2 separate regions of the Homo sapiens genome follow, and region 2 is linked to region 1. Evidence: fine-mapped expression QTL. Tissue or cell type: B cells. Region 1 holds a variant in brackets; the other region holds the start of a gene. All regions are shown on one strand. Distances are from middle to middle.

Region 1 (2,526 bases):
GGAGCCCTAGCCTCTCCTTGCACAGCCCTAAACACAGGGAGCTCACCACCTTCTTTATGCTAGAATAATCCTGGCAACGCTTCCTTCTGCAGAAAGCAGGCCCGGGTACTGAGAATTTACCTAAAGGGTCCCATCAAAAGAGCAGATGCCCCGAAAGCCACTTTGACTGTGAAAGATCAAAAGTGTATGCTACCGTGTTTCTTTTTTTTTTGGAGACAGAGTCTTGCTCTGTCGCCCAGGCTGGAGTGCAGTGGTGCAATCTCGGCTCACTGCAAACTCCACCTCCCGAGTTCAAGCGATTCTTCTGCCTCAGCCTCCCGAGTAGCTGGGATTACAGGCGCCTGCCACCAGGCCCGGCTAATTTTTGTATTTTTAGTTGGGACAGGGTTTCACCATGTTGGCCAGGCTGGTCTTGAACTCCCGACCTCAGGTGATCTGCCTGCCTCAGCCTCCCAAAGTGCTAGGATTACAGGCATGAGCCACCATGCCCAGCCTGCTACCATGTTTCTAATCACTGTTACCATCAGATTTAACATAAATCTGCTGGTTATAGAAGGTATAGAAATTAAATACCAAAAATAAAACTGCCTGTAATTTCGCTATGTAGGGCAGGGCTGGGGGGAAAAAAAGGGTTTGTAATTTATTGTGTCCACATCTACCTCTAGGTAAACTTCCATCAATACTTGAACTTCATCCCCTGCGCCCACCTGGCAAATCCCTCCTCTCCAGGGAAAACTTTTAGGTATTTAATATAACTAACCTTTACCGAGCTCTGGGTTAACCTATCTAATTCTTGTGACAGCTCTGAGACATCTTATAAATGAAGAAACTGAGGCTCAGAGAGGGCAAGTAACTTCCCAGAGGTTGCACAGCTAATAAGGGGCAGAGACATGAATCCATCGGGTGCCAGAACTGAAGTCTCTAGAGTAGGCATGCACTGTACTTTCTTCCTCCTCGCCACAGGAGTGGATACCAGACTGCTCAGCAGCTCAGATGTTTATTCATTCATTCTTTGTGGGGTTTTTTTTGAGACCGAGTCTTGCTCTGTTGCCCAGGCTGGAGTGCAATGGTGTGATCTCGGCTCACTGCAAC[T/C]CCCACCTCCTGGCTTCAAGCGATTCTCCTGCCTCAGCCTCCTGAGTAGCTGAAATCACAGGCAATCAACACCATACCCGGCTCATTTTTGTGTTTTTTTTTTTTTTTTTTCATTTTTGTGTTTTTAGTAAAGACGGGATTTGGCCATGTTGCCCAGGCTGGTCTTGAACTCCTGGGCTCAAGCAATCTACCTGCGTTGGACTCCCAAAGTGCTGGGATTACAGGTGTGAGCCACCGTGGCTGGCCTCATTCATTCATTCTTTCTTCTTCACATTCACTCATTTATTAAGTTACTTGACATTCCTGAGCTCTGGTTCAGCGTCAGGTGCAGGCCGATGCCGTCCCCCACAACCCCCGCCCACATCTGCCATACTTTCAGATGCCCCAAGAACTTGAACTTCATTTATTACAAATAACTGGGTTCACTGCATTGTATGATGAACAGCGAAGCCTAGAGAGGCAGCCCAGGGTGGGGCTCCAACAACTGCCCCCAACATGCCCAGCCCTGCATGAAGTCCTGGGTGGGTGAGGTCATCTGGACTGGGCCTTGGAGCTGTCCTGTATTTATAAAACCAAATGGGTCCAAAGACTTCTGGGTGTGCGCGCGCGCGCGCGCGTGTGTGTATATATATATATAAAACATAGGCTTCCTTTCCACAGGGCGTTGGTAGGTGGGACTGTTGACGCCATCCCTGGGAGAGAAGAAAGTCGGCTGTGGCAGGGACTGGTCCCAGAGTGAGCCTAGGCACTGCATCAGTTTGAGTGGCTGGTTAGCCTGGACCCTGGGCAGGTATGGGGCGGCCCATCCTGCCCAGCCACAGGAAGCTCTAGGCCACCTGGATTTGCAGGTCCTCGTCCTCGTCCAGGTCACTGGTTCCATCCTCGGCCTCCTCGGTGCCAAAGCGAGCACTGCGGATCTTCCCGAAGAGGGGAGCGTTCTGCTGCTGCCTGCGGAGCCTGTGGGGTGGGGGTGACAGGAGGTTAGAGCAGCCTGGCTGGTAGTCCCCCGATAAGGTGGCTGCAGCTGGTGCTGGAGCAGTTAAGCCTTCCCTGGTGCTTTCCCTGCTGTCTCATCTCCTGTAATCTCCTTATATGATAGAAGTGCCATTATCACCCCCATTTTACAAGCAAGGAAACCGAGGCACAGAAAGGTGAAGTCATTTGCTCAAAGTCACACAGATGGTGGGGAGTGGGGCAGAGCTCTGAACTGAAGTGGGTGGTGCCAGAGCAGCTGGGCGGTTAGAGAGGTGAAGGAGCTGGCTCAAGGTCATGCTGCAGGATTTGAACCCAAGCCTGGCTCTCAGAGCACAGGCAGCAGAGTTGGTTGGTGTGACAGTGCAGGGTGGGCTGAGCCCTCTACATTCCCAGTGTCAGTGAGAAAGGGCTCAGCCCTAGTTCTTCCTCACATTAAAATTCCTAAAGTCAAAATTTACG
Region 2 (2,500 bases), 25 kb after region 1:
CCAAGTGGATACGCACAGCTGGAATGGTGGGGTGAACCTTCATGGGGACCCAGCCCCACCCCGACCCCAGCCCCACCCCTCTCGGCAACACCGTGAACTCTTCACTCTTGTACAGCAGACATCCCGCTAGTCCCAGCTCCATCACTGATATGCTGTGTGATATCTGCAAGTCCCTGCCCTCTCTGGGCCTCAGTTTCCTTACCTACAGGATGGGGAGAGGCACTAAAAAGATTCCTGAACGCTCTAACAGGTGGGCAGACCTCCCGAACCCAAACCAATCCAACCCCCACAAGAGCCCTGGGAGAGCGGGGGTGGGAAGGTGGACACCACCCCCACCTAAGGTACTGAAACTGAAGCCCCAGCCCTGCGTCGCCTTAGTCCTCACTTAGTCGACCCCTCCCAAGCCGCTGGCCCTGCGAACCGCCCCGCTCCACCTAGCGACGGGCGGAGGGTGGAGGGGGTTCCCGGCCCGCGCCGCGCGGTCCCGCCCACCCCACCGCATGGCCCCCATTGGCAGTCGCCGCGGCTCTGGGCAGGGCGCCGTGCTCTGATTGGCCAGCGCCGCCCGTCCATCCCGCATTCGCCATGGCGACCACGTTGGGTCCCCCGGGAGAGTCCCAAATTCCGTCCCCGCCCGCCGCCCCCTCCCGTCCGGCCCGGGCCGCGGCATTCCGGAGGCGCCTCCCCTCCCCCATCACCCCGCGGCCCCTCCCCACCGGAGACCTGGGGTTCCGGGGGCTGAGGGAGGCCGGGGAGGCGTCTAGAAAGTTCTGCTCTGAGTTCGGGGGTTGCCGCGGGCGCCCCGACTGTGTCTGCTCCTCCAGCACGCCCCACAACTTAACCCCTTCCTTCCCGCGGAAGGCGCGCGGCCTGGAGCAAGTTCCCGGGCCGCCTTGGCCTGCCGCCCCCCGGCCTGCCGCCCCCGCTCACCTCGGGCCGGGACTTGCGGGCTCCGTACGTCCCAGCCGCTGCGGCGGGGTAGAGCGGGCACCGTGCAGCTGCGACCGCCGCCGGAGGGGCCGAGGGAGGGCCGCGGAGTCTCCTCCTCCCTCCCGGGGGGAGGGGAAGCAGGGGGAGCGGCGGGGCCCCCGAAGCGGTCGCAGGCTGCGGCCCCGCTGTGACCCCGGCCCACCGAGCTGCTGGGGTGGGGGCTCCAGCCTAACTTCGGGGCGAGGGGTGCGGGCCGGGGCGGTGGGCTCTGCTGCAGAGCGGGCCGTACCCCAACGGAGGCCCCACCCCCGTGAGGGGCCGAGAGTTGCGGGGGGGCTCGGCTTTCTTGGTTCAGGTTTCCTCAGCGCCAACTACGTACTAGGCGCCCCCAGCAGAAACGGCCACCGCGGGTCCCAGCTCGGCACGTGGAGCGAGCTTACCAAGTCTTCACTGTTGTTACCTGCATTTTTCCCTGGGCCAGCTCTGCCACCGAGTGGAAGTGGGCCAACAAGTCTGTGCCCATCGGGCCTCAGTTTCTCTTTCTGTACAACAGAAGGGTTGACGAAAGCAACCTTGCGCTTGTTAAGAGGTGGGGGGCGCGGGGAGCACTCGGCCCGGCGGGCGGAGACTTTTCTCTGCATTGCGATGGTGGTTGGCAGGCCCTGGGGAATTACGGTACTTCGCCTTCGGGGACGCCCAGCTGTTTTGGGGCTTTCTCTCTATTGGGGGTAGGATGTTTGTGGTCTTGACTGGAAAGCCGGGACAGGCGTCTGGAGGACTCCCCACTACATCCTGTACCCTGGAAGGCCCCCGAGGTGAATCTATTTAAAAGAAGACCAACAATTCACCAAGATGGTGGGGAAAACCTGGCCTGATTGGGATTTTACCTAGAAAAAGAAGCTAAATATTACGAAGATAAATTAGTTTTACCCCGTGATTAACGGAGTTTAGATTATGATTGCAACCACGCACGCCTTAAAATGAACCAAGAATGAATCAGATGTTAACACTGGAAGTCTTGCTTTTTCTTGTAATAGTTGAGTATGTAGCATCCTTCCCTTCTGAACTGGTTTTTGCAGTAAGAGATTCATTTTTGCAAAAATATTTGAGAGCTTCCTCAAACTCAAGGATCACTCTGAATCCTTTGATAGTCCAGTGCCTTTTTTCGGGTCTGGGTCACTTCCCTTGCAGACGTTCCCTTTCTCTGTGGGCAGCGGCTGTTCCATTTCTCCTGCTTTGCTTCCACCAACTTCATGAAATCCCATACGTTGCAAGACTGGCAGTTTCACTTGTCGATTCATTTGCTTTGTATTTGTTATGCGTGGCTGAATGTTGAAAGCGTCTGTTCACCAGCCAGAGATAGATAGGAGATGTATGTGGGGTTTGAGTACTCAGAGGACAAGGGCATCCACATTTTACAGCTGAGGAAATGAAGGCTCAGAGAGGCTCTTGGCTCAGACTTGCACAAGGTCCTACAGCCAGTAACAGCCTTGGATCAAGAGCCCAGAGGTCTTGCCCAGAGTTTTTGGAGGTGGAAATGGGGCTGGGGAAGGTGGTGGAGACTGAGTTG

Which allele goes with the higher level. Alleles are on the strand shown, and positions count from the first base shown. SD is a standard deviation of normalised expression in the study named.
For the expression in B cells of the gene that starts at base 1,002 in region 2, allele C in region 1 goes with a lower level than allele T (small effect, 0.37 SD a copy in Fairfax 2012).

What was found. PIP is the estimated chance that this variant, and not a neighbour inherited with it, causes the effect. A credible set is the group of variants that fine-mapping cannot tell apart.
Region 2: it holds the start of CCDC102A, and the variant in region 1 is the best candidate, but not a certain one, in a credible set for the expression of CCDC102A in B cells (Fairfax 2012, PIP 0.86).

The regions. Positions count from the first base shown.
Region 1 is chr16:57,510,822-57,513,347 of GRCh38, forward strand. It overlaps CCDC102A (coiled-coil domain containing 102A), which reads right to left. Exons shown (of 9, transcript NM_033212.4): 9 at 1,360-2,049. The coding sequence ends at 1,920. Among named protein-coding and RNA genes, the nearest start is that of CCDC102A, 24 kb to the right of the region's middle. The variant T/C (reference allele first, on the strand shown) is at 1,093.
Region 2 is chr16:57,535,570-57,538,069 of GRCh38, forward strand. It overlaps CCDC102A (coiled-coil domain containing 102A), which reads right to left and starts at 1,002. Exons shown (of 9, transcript NM_033212.4): 1 at 931-1,002. It also overlaps a transcript of ADGRG5 not described here. RefSeq lists a silencer at 295-1,244.